Linked DNA regions of Homo sapiens. The protein of the gene in region 1 interacts with the protein of each later gene in a pairwise test. Each region holds a gene or a part of one and is shown in the gene's direction. Other genes may lie near its edges.

The links.
Region 2: the proteins of TPX2 (region 1) and HMMR interact in binary tests that used the Homo sapiens proteins (3 or more experiments, as listed by UniProt).

What each region holds. Positions count from the first base shown.
Region 1 is NC_000020.11:31,798,073-31,802,386, forward strand, and holds the end of TPX2 (targeting protein for Xklp2), read left to right. Parts: intron 1-292; coding exon 293-480; intron 481-2,897; coding exon 2,898-3,008; 3' UTR 3,009-3,728; downstream 3,729-4,314. UniProt on the Homo sapiens protein: Spindle assembly factor required for normal assembly of mitotic spindles. Required for normal assembly of microtubules during apoptosis. Required for chromatin and/or kinetochore dependent microtubule nucleation.
Region 2 is NC_000005.10:163,470,554-163,477,856, forward strand, and holds part of HMMR (hyaluronan mediated motility receptor), read left to right. Parts: intron 1-631; coding exon 632-718; intron 719-809; coding exon 810-910; intron 911-2,625; coding exon 2,626-2,700; intron 2,701-2,825; coding exon 2,826-3,004; intron 3,005-3,503; coding exon 3,504-3,652; intron 3,653-4,904; coding exon 4,905-5,119; intron 5,120-7,303. UniProt on the Homo sapiens protein: Receptor for hyaluronic acid (HA). Involved in cell motility. When hyaluronan binds to HMMR, the phosphorylation of a number of proteins, including PTK2/FAK1 occurs.

The sequences.
Region 1 (4,314 bases):
GGGATCTTTCTTCTATGTCTGCCTCAAAATCAATCACTATATAGTTTTGTGCAAGCTACTTTATGTCTTTGCCTTTTTCCCAATTACACCAGACGATTTCCAGGGGCCCTTTGAACTCTTAAAATTCTAAAACTTTTTGTATTTAGTTGGCTCTACCTTTCTCCCAATGGGGCTTGTTTAGAGCACAGTCTTCCTGTTAGTGTGCATGTCTGTGCCACTTGCTCATTCCAGGGGGCGTAGGTTTATGCAAGTCCTGCTTGTGCACCAATATTTTTTCTGTTTCTGTACTTAGAGGGCCTTTCTGGTTCTCTAGTTCAGGAACCTTTTCAGCTGGCTACTGAGAAGAGAGCCAAAGAGCGGCAGGAGCTGGAGAAGAGAATGGCTGAGGTAGAAGCCCAGAAAGCCCAGCAGTTGGAGGAGGCCAGACTACAGGAGGAAGAGCAGAAAAAAGAGGAGCTGGCCAGGCTACGGAGAGAACTGGTAACTGGGAGCATGAGCACTGACGAACACAAACATGCCTCTGTTTTATTTTACCTGTACCTTACCTTGTACCAGACAGGATCTAAGGTAGCCCGCAAGGCTGTACCAAAGACAATGAGTGAAAGGGGGAATTGCACAAACTGAGGGTGGTGATGAAGTTGAGTTGTGAATGAAGCTAACGATGTGTACATTGTGATCTAAGTAGGAGCTGTAATTTTGGCCCTTTTTAGGAACCAACCTGTCAGTTACAAAACTCGCAGTGTTCATGAGACATAAGACAGTTGTTCAAAAAATACATTTATCCCTTTGATAGTGAATTTTTAGACAGAATTTCTTCCGGAAGTTTTCATAAGGAGGACAACATGTGGTATAACCATGATGCCTTTCCTAGGACTGTTTTTTATTTATTTGTTTATTTTATTTATGTAACTTATTATTTCCTCTGGGGTTAAGAAGCACCACTGAGTTTTGTAATTAGACAAGAATACATAGCGAAGGACATGGGAATTAAATGGCAACTGTATTTTTGTTTTAATACTGAGCCCAAACTCCTTGGAGTTACAGTGTTCGTCGCTCCAGGTAATCCTCTACTAACATAATTATTTAGATGTTGGTTATCCAAAAAGAAACCTGAACTCCACATTAAGGACCAATCTGCTAGGAGGGCAGCAAGTTGTGTTAACTGTGTTAATGAAGAAGCAGACAGTTTTAGATGGAACTTCGTATGATAAATAAAAAAAGAAAGGGTCATGGGGAGATGTTGGTAAAAGGTTACTTAGTTACAGTTAGATGGGAGGAGTAAATTTCAAGAGATCTATCATATAACAAGGTGACTGTAGTTAATGATATATTGTATTCTTGAAAACTGTAAAGAAAGTGGATGTTATGTGCTCACACTACAATAAGTGGATGTTATGTGCTCACACTACAATGTTAATTAGCATCTTGCTAATTAACAAATGCATTATCTCACATAGTAACCATTCCATAATGTATGTCTACTTTAAAACATCAGCGGTACACAATAAAAATATACAGTGTTATCTGTCAATTAAAAAGAAAGAAGGCCAGGAATGGTGGCTCACACCTGTAATCCCAGCACTATGGGAGGCCCAGGTGGGTGGATCACTTGAGGTCAGGAGTTGGAGACCAGCCTGGCCAAAATGGCGAAACTCTGTCTCTACTAAAAATACAAAAATTAGCCGGGCATGGTGGCACGCACCTGTAATCCCAGCTACTCGGGAGGCTGAGGCAGGAGAATTGCTTGAACCTGGGAGGCCCAGGTTGCAGTGAGCCGATTGTGCCACTGCAGTCCAGCCTGGGGGTGACAGAGCGAGACTGTCTCAAAAAAAAAAAAAAAAAAAAAAAAGAAGTGTAAGTTGTTGAGGTTTTGTCTAAAAGTGCTATACTACAGCTGGATGTGGCAGCTCACACCTGTAATCCTCACACTTTGGGAGGCCAAGGTGGGAGGATTGCGTGAGCCCAGGAGTTCAAGAAAAGCGTGGGCAACATAGCAAAGTCCCATCTCTATTTTAAATAAATAAATAAAATGCTAGACTAGCAGTTGAAACAGCTATTGGCAGCTATTGGCATAGGTGATTATGCCCATAGGAAGGTTCCACGGACACACTATTTAGGAGACCAGCCTCTTGGTAAAATCTAGACTACCATTTGCTGAGTGAATGAGAAAATAGTATAATCCCCACTCTATATACACTCATACAATCAGCCTTTTTTCCCGGCCTCAACTTTGATTTTTCTTTAGCATTTGGTACCTGCCTCTTGTGTTTGTCCCCATTATAGAACTGCTTCTTGCAGCAATTCTCAACATAACTGATGGCAACATTGTAAAGCACAATTCAGTCAATGCTGGTTAACTCTCTACTAATCTGGCTTGATTTAGGATTGATTTTAGACTACCCTAAAGGATGGATGGGACCATGCCTTCTTTAGCCACCCTTCCTGGTATGGTTGTTGTGTTTTGTTTTTGCTTTTTCCCCAGGATTCAGGCTTTTGGTGAATATTTATAGTCAGTAAACTTAAGACTGTACTCTGGGAAATTCTTAGCTTGTAACTTCTCTGCTATACTTGAGTACAGCCCTATTATACCCTAGTAAATCACACAGGACATAGGTTTGGCATTCTTTAGTGAAAGCTGAGGGACTTGAGGAGACTGTGGCCTAAAGGAAAGCTGGGGGACCCAATAGAGACCTGAATAGAAACCCTTTTGGGCTCCAAAGCACATACACTTTTCCATCATACCGTGTTGCCCCCCAGGCCCCACTCCCCACACCTGAAACTAGTGACTGGGACCTGTAAAACTCTACAAACATTTTCTCAAAAAGAAAAAAATAAAAGCAATTATAAGCGTAGTTCTCTGACATCCCTCTCACTGGTAACTTTTCCTTACTTTGCAGGTGCATAAGGCAAATCCAATACGCAAGTACCAGGGTCTGGAGATAAAGTCAAGTGACCAGCCTCTGACTGTGCCTGTATCTCCCAAATTCTCCACTCGATTCCACTGCTAAACTCAGCTGTGAGCTGCGGATACCGCCCGGCAATGGGACCTGCTCTTAACCTCAAACCTAGGACCGTCTTGCTTTGTCATTGGGCATGGAGAGAACCCATTTCTCCAGACTTTTACCTACCCGTGCCTGAGAAAGCATACTTGACAACTGTGGACTCCAGTTTTGTTGAGAATTGTTTTCTTACATTACTAAGGCTAATAATGAGATGTAACTCATGAATGTCTCGATTAGACTCCATGTAGTTACTTCCTTTAAACCATCAGCCGGCCTTTTATATGGGTCTTCACTCTGACTAGAATTTAGTCTCTGTGTCAGCACAGTGTAATCTCTATTGCTATTGCCCCTTACGACTCTCACCCTCTCCCCACTTTTTTTAAAAATTTTAACCAGAAAATAAAGATAGTTAAATCCTAAGATAGAGATTAAGTCATGGTTTAAATGAGGAACAATCAGTAAATCAGATTCTGTCCTCTTCTCTGCATACCGTGAATTTATAGTTAAGGATCCCTTTGCTGTGAGGGTAGAAAACCTCACCAACTGCACCAGTGAGGAAGAAGACTGCGTGGATTCATGGGGAGCCTCACAGCAGCCACGCAGCAGGCTCTGGGTGGGGCTGCCGTTAAGGCACGTTCTTTCCTTACTGGTGCTGATAACAACAGGGAACCGTGCAGTGTGCATTTTAAGACCTGGCCTGGAATAAATACGTTTTGTCTTTCCCTCCCTGATTGTGTTATTTGATGTTTTTAAATCTGTTAAGCCCCTTTGGAGGTCACATCTTATTGGGAAATGGGTAGTTTGAGAGGTGGGTCCAGGAACTTTTTTTTTTTGAGATGGAGTCTCGCTCTGTCGCCCAGGCTGGAGTGCAGTGGTGCGATCTCTTCTCACTGTAAGCTCTGCCTCCTGGGTTCACGCCATTCTCCTGCCTCAGCCTCCCGAGTAGCTGGGATTACAGGCGCCCGCCATCATTCCCGGCTAATTATTTTTTTTGTATTTTAAGTAGAGACAGGGTTTCACCGTGTTAGCCAGGATGGTCTCGATCTCCTGACCTTGTGATCCACCCGCCTCGGCCTCCCAAAGTGCTGGGATTACAGGCGTGAGCCACCATGCCCGGCCCAGGACAGTACTTTGTAATTTTTTTCTGTCTTATGTCAGAATATCTCCATATTCTGTTAACTCTCTCTCAGTAACCACTTAATCATGTATGTTATGCCTTCACACAGACTGTACCTTCTTCCCTAAAGACTCAGCTCAAGTTAAATTTTTTTTTTGAGATGGAGTCTCGCTCTGTCACCTAGGCTGGAGAGCA
Region 2 (7,303 bases), on another chromosome or scaffold:
CTGAGGCATGAGAATAGCTTGAACTCGGGAGGTGGAAGTTGCAGTGAGCAACACGGCACTCCAGCCTGGGTGACAGAGTGAGACTCTGTCTTACAAAAATAAAATAAAAATAAACCAGCAAGTCACATTAAGGAAAAGAGGGATAAGAACAGTAGACTGGTACAGTGGCTCATGCCTGTATTTCCAGCATTTTGGAAGGCTGAGGGCTGGAGAATTGCTTGAGGCCAGGAGTTTGAGACCAGCCTGGGCAACATATCAAGACCCCATCTCTATAAACAAATTGAAAAATTAGCTAGGCATGGTGGTGGTGCACACCGGTAATCCCAGCTACTCAGGAAGATGAGGCAGGAGGATTGATTGAGCCCAGGAGTTTGAGATTATAGCGAGCTATGATCATGCCACTCCACTCTAGCCTGGACAGCGGAGCGAGACTTGATCTCTTAAAAAGAAAAGAAAAAAAAATTAAATCAATCAGTAATTATGGTGTAGGTCAAAGACTGTTCTCTCTACCAAAGTATATTAAAGTCAAAAACATAACCCCAGTGATAGGTAGAAAAATCAATATTTGTGTATTTTAAATATGTCTTAGCAGAAAATATTTCTGAATTTTTTACGTGTTTGTTGTATTTAGTTTTCTGAAAATGGTAACCAGAAGAATTTGAGAATTCTAAGCTTGGAGTTGATGAAACTTAGAAACAAAAGAGAAACAAAGATGAGGGTGAGTGCTGCCCTTGGCAGGTTTGCTGTGTCTGGATCTGGGGATCAGTACAACTTTCTCATTTCCTAAAACAGGTATCTTTGTTGTGTAGGGTATGATGGCTAAGCAAGAAGGCATGGAGATGAAGCTGCAGGTCACCCAAAGGAGTCTCGAAGAGTCTCAAGGGAAAATAGCCCAACTGGAGGGAAAACTGTAAGTGAGTGAATGTGAAGAGAAATTGTTAAGTGGAAGCAATTCTTGATTTGAGTCTCTTCACAAATTATTGTTTACTGAGACTTCAACCTTCTGTTAGTACTTATCTCATTGCCTCCCTCCAGTTGCCCTATTTCTCTTTTTAAACTAGAATGAGCCCTAATCATTCTCAAACATGTTGTGCTACAAAGTTGTATGAGTGCATTACTTTTGTACATCTTCTGTATTATTAATGATGAGGAAAGATTTCATGATCTTATGAAAGTGGTCATTAGATTGAAATTGAGAAACACTGGTATAGGAAATTGTGATTTATGCACAATCCTAGCCTTTGATTTTGAGCTTTAATATACATATAATAAAATGTGTGGATAGTAAGTATTCAGTTTGGTGACTTTAGCAATTGTATACACCTACGTAACCACTACCAAACAAGATAGAGAACATTTTCATCCCTTCAGAAAGTTCCTTCATACCCCTTCTTGTCCCCCTGCTACTGCCTATGTCATGTCCCCATCCCCATAACTACTTTCTCACTTACATCATCATAAATTAGCTTTGCCTTTTTTTATTTATTATTATTATTATTTATTTTTTTTTTTAGAGATGGGGCATTGCTTTGTTACTCAGGCTGGTCTCATACTCCTGGACTCAAGTGATACCACCCTGGCCTTCAGAGTGCTGGAGTTATAGACATGGGCCACTATACCTGGCCAGTTTTGCCTTTTTTTAGGACATGCAAAAGAGAAAGAGCATGTGTGTGTGTTGCTTCTTTTGTTTGATGTAATTTTTCAAGATTCATCCAAACCGTTCTGTATACTGTAATTTTTCCTATTTTATTTCTGAGTAGTGGTTCACCTTATGAATATACCTCCATCTCTTTACTCTTCTCCTTTTGATCATTATTTGGGCTGTTGCCAGTGTCTGCCATTAAAAAGACTGCTGTGAACATGTTTTATGTTTTTTTATGGACACGTTTTTATTTCTCAGAGAAATTTCTAGGAGTAGAATTCTTGGGTAATAGGGTAGTGTATATATAATGTTTTTTAAAACTCAGAAGTGTTTTTGCCATTTTTATACACCCCCTGGCAATGTATGATAGTTTCAGTTGTTCCAGATTCTCACCAACATTTAATGTTGTCAGTCTGTTTGATTTTAGCCTTTCTACTAGGTAGGAAGTGGTATCTCCTTTGTGATTTTAATTTGTTACCATGAATGTTGACCTTATTTTTATGTGCTTATTGACCATTTTATGTGCATATCACCTTTTGCAAGGTGTCTATTGAAGTCTTTTGTCCATTTCTTGCATTGGACAGTTTGGTGGAGGTAAACAGATAAGTAATTGAAGACCAGGTAGTCTGGGACAAAAGCTTTATGGGCACACAAAATGCTATTTAGTATGTTGGATGGGTGGGGAAACCAGGAAGACCACAAAAAGAATATTATTTCTAACACTTGGGATACTGTAATGATGGTTCTTGTCATCATAGGTTTTTTTGTCAGTATATATTCAGAAAACTTTCTCACTTAAATAAAAATTTTAGTCTTCTATTTTGATGTAAATTGTGAATTTGAGAAATTACATAAAATAATAGTTAAGAGTTAGGGCTCTGTAGTCAGCCTGCCTGATACAGGAGTATCTGGTACATAAGCATTATGTAAGATTATTAAATAACGAAACTAGAATGTATTAACATATGCAATTTTTGTTTTAGTGTTTCAATAGAGAAAGAAAAGATTGATGAAAAATCTGAAACAGAAAAACTCTTGGAATACATCGAAGAAATTAGGTAATATGAGCAGTAGCTTTAAATTGAACCTTATTTTTTTAATACTCAGTCATTTTCATCATTTTTCTGTTATTTTCCCTGTGCCTAAATAGATGTGCTTTTTAAGATAATTTGTTTTAATGCAGTTGTGCTTCAGATCAAGTGGAAAAATACAAGCTAGATATTGCCCAGTTAGAAGAAAATTTGAAAGAGAAGAATGATGAAATTTTAAGCCTTAAGCAGTCTCTTGAGGAGAATATTGTTATATTATCTAAACAAGTAGAAGATCTAAATGTGAAATGTCAGCTGCTTGAAAAAGAAAAAGGTATTACAGTGTTTTATAGTTACTTTGTTTAGATAAGTGTTACATACAACATTTAGGAAAAATACTACTATGCTAAAACAACCTTTTAAATATAATTAGCTATACTAACATTTTAAATATAATTAGCTATATAGCTATACAACAGCAAAAACCTGTACTGCATTTTAGAATATTTTACTCTTATAATGTTTGTTTTCTGTTTATTTCAATACAGCATATTACCTGTCTTGATTGAAATATATACAGTCATATAATTCTTGACTTTTCCACTAGGTGGCTGTGTAACAATCAGTAGATAACACAGAACAAGATTTGTGGGTTTTATTATTTAGCACATAGTATATATTACATGGAGTAATGATACAAAGTTCACAGTTTTGTTTTCTTCTTTGGAAATACCATGCTAAAAGCAGTGTAATGGAATATTATGGGAGTCCAGGTTTCTCAGTCTTAATGTTCTTATCTAATTCCAGTATTCTTGATGTTTTGCGTTTTCTAGAAGACCATGTCAACAGGAATAGAGAACACAACGAAAATCTAAATGCAGAGATGCAAAACTTAAAACAGAAGTTTATTCTTGAACAACAGGAACGTGAAAAGCTTCAACAAAAAGAATTACAAATTGATTCACTTCTGCAACAAGAGAAAGTAATTTACCACCATATTTTTTTAAACTGTTCATTTTGTGTCATACATTTCCCTATGTCTCTGAACACCTTTAAATTGTGTATATCCTTTGATCTACCAATTCTATCTTTAGAGTCTTATCCTGAGGACATAATCATGGATATGCTGAGGATTTAGCTACGTATTTTCACTACATGTTCACCCTAGGGTTATGAATAATGTGGGAAAATGACAACAGATACAGCAAAATAGGGAATTTTTAAAAAATTTTCTGGCTCATTCTTGTGTTATTTAGGCTATATAAACATTTACACTTACCTTGTAAAAGACTGTCTAATTACAGAAGAAACAAAGCAATTTTTAAAATCCAGATTATTTATAGAACATTTTACATATCAGTGAGAAGAAAGAAAGTCCACTGAAAAATTATGGGCATAGGATGGAAACAGAGAAGGAGAAGTTCTGGCCTGTAAATATAGAAAGATACTCCACCTTAGTAGTAACCAAGGAAGTAGAAATAATATTTTTTTCACTTACAAAATTGGCACAAATTAAAACATTTGATAACACAAAATACTGGTGAGAGTTAAGCCAACAGGTACTTACATGCACTGATGTGAAATATTATAGTGTTGGACAACCTACAACAGCTAAAGGAATTGAGTAGATCTATATACACTGACCTGGAAAGATTTCAGCAACAGAGTATATATCATTTATATCCCTCCCCAAATGTATATGTATATATAAGTGTAAAGAAAAATACCAGAAGGCATATATATTCCAAACTAGTAGCTATCTCTGCAATGGGAAAACTAAAATTAGGGGGGGAAGTCGTCAAAGATAATATTAACATCATTTGTAATGTTAGAATTATTTCACAATGGTGATGTATTTGTATATTGTATAGCTTAAAAAATAATTTTATGTAATATGGAAATCACCACACACTTTTTACATAATATGTGAAAAATAATGTTAATATCAAAGCCAGTTGTAAAACAGATATATATATATAAAATATAATTTTAGATTAAGAAGTTTCTGCATGTGCGTTGCATAGAAAAAAGCCTAAGATGATATTTGCCACAATGTTAACAAGGTATAGGAAATAATCTATGAAAACAAATATGCTATTTCTATATTGTTTTAAGTTTCCTTGAATCTGTTGAATTTAGGTTTCATCCTTCTTTATCTGTACTTTTTTTTGTCTCCTAGTACAACCTCACAATGCCATTCCAAATTATTTTGGTGGTTTTCTGTTTGGATATAGGAATTATCTTCGAGTCTTCATCAGAAGCTCTGTTCTTTTCAAGAGGAAATGGTTAAAGAGAAGAATCTGTTTGAGGAAGAATTAAAGCAAACACTGGATGAGCTTGATAAATTACAGCAAAAGGAGGAACAAGCTGAAAGGCTGGTCAAGCAATTGGAAGAGGAAGCAAAATCTAGAGCTGAAGAATTAAAACTCCTAGAAGAAAAGCTGAAAGGGTTTGTATTAATAGGATCTCATGTTTATGTATGACTTCAGATGTATTTATTTTGAGTACTTTTTTTAGTATTCTCTTATCAATCATGTGAGCGTGTTAGGTTGGAATTATTTTATAATTAAGTAGTAATTATTAATTATTTTACAATTAAGTAGTAGACACAGAATGTGAACACAAAATGTACATGCAAACAAGTAAGACAGCCCCCTCTTTTAAGTTAAAAGTTAAAGGTTTTGCCCCCTTTTTTTAAGGCCAAAGAGAGTTTAAATAAACAAATGACAAAAGTTTTACACTTCTTTACTACTCTGCTAATTTCTGAAATTTATTGAACATCAGCATTAGAACAATAATCAACTCAGGGCTGGATGTGGTGGCTGATGCCTGCAATTCCCATACTTTGGGATGCCAAGGTGAGAGGACTGCTTGAGCTCAGGAGTTTGAGACCAGCCTGTGCAATATAGTGAGACCTCGTCTCTACTAAAAATTAAAAAAAAAACTAGCTGGGCACGGTGGTGTGTGCCTGTAGTCCCAGCTACTTAGAAAGTTGTGGGAGGAGAATCACTTAAGCCCACGAGATTAAGGCTGCAGTTAGCCGTGATCACGTCACTGCACTCTAGCCTGAGCAACAGAGTGAGACTCTGTCTCAAAAACAAACAAAACACAATAATGAACTTGGGGGAAAAAAATAAAGAATCCCTCCCATTAATAAATAGCATTCCCATTTTTGTCTATGCACTTACATAGTGTAAGTTATACCTTTAATTACATTTTTCCGGGAGCACAAACACTTCAGAAATAGCAATCAAAATGCAAAGCAGGCTGGCACAATGGCACATGCCTAAAGTCCCAGCTACTCAGGAGGCTGAGATGGGAGGATCTTTAGAGCCCAGGAGTTTGAGGCTGTAATGCTCAACGATTATACCTGTTAATAGCCATGGCACTCTAGCCTGGGCAACGTAGCACAAGATGCCACCTCAATCAATAACTGATAAAAAGCAAATGAGAAAAAATAATTATAACTGGGAAACATTCAGAAGTAAGAAATCTCTTATTTACAGTAGAAAGACTGAAATCTTGGCTGGGTGCGGTGGCTCACACCTGTAATCCCACCACTTTGGGAAGCCAAGGCAGCGAGATCACAAGGTCAGGAGTTCGAGACCAGCCTGGCCAACATGGTGAAACCCCATCTCTACTAAAAATACATAGTAAATTAGCCTGGCATCGTGGCGCACGCCTGTAATCCCAGCTATTCAGGAGGCTGAGGCAGGAGAATTGCTTGAACCCAGGAGGCGGAGGTTGTGGTGAGCTGACATCGCACCACTGCACTCCAGCCTGGGCGACAGAGGGAGACTGTGTCCCAAAAACAAAAGAAAAACTGAAATCTCACTTTTTTCCCGAACTCTAGTTCCTTATAATTTCTGCCACATTATGTTTCCTTCTCCCATACACTTATTTATTTCATTTTGTTTTGTTTTGTCCATAGTAATTGCTAATTTTTTATTTATTAAGAGAAACTATTCCTTAGCCTACATATTCATATTTCATAGTTCAGGAACACAGGTTAGTGACAAACACTACTACATTTATTTAAATTAAAAAGTCTGATTTGATTCTTGAGTTCAAATTGCAAATATTTAAATCCTTGGGATCTGATCATTAAAACACTTGTTGTCAAAGGACTGTGGGCTAGATATGAGTTTGTATTATTGTAATATATCTCACACCTGTGTATCTGTCTCAGTGGATACTTTTGTTATTAATCTTTTCTGTTTTCTTATGATTAGTGATGCAAATGAACAGCAAGGTTTTTCATATCCCTGCTTTTGGGGGAACAATACAAAATTGTAATTAGGGGTGTTGTTCTATACTACAGCCAATCTCAGGGAACAGGAATCTTGGGAAAATAAGATAATGTCATTTTAAGAGAGGAAAGAAAATTGAGATAATTTTTTATTCCAACTCAAAAAACTGTGGTCCAATGGTCAAGAGATAAGGATTTTTATTACTAATTCTGTTAGCTAGCTGGTTGATTCTGAGCAAAACAATCTTAGTTTCTTTGATCTTCTACTTCATTAGATATAAAAGAGTTTTATTAGATGGTCTCTAAGATCCCTTCTAGCCTGGAAATTTCAAGCTTAAGAGAAAAACAAACTAAGAATTGAAAATAATTCCTCTAGGGGACAGG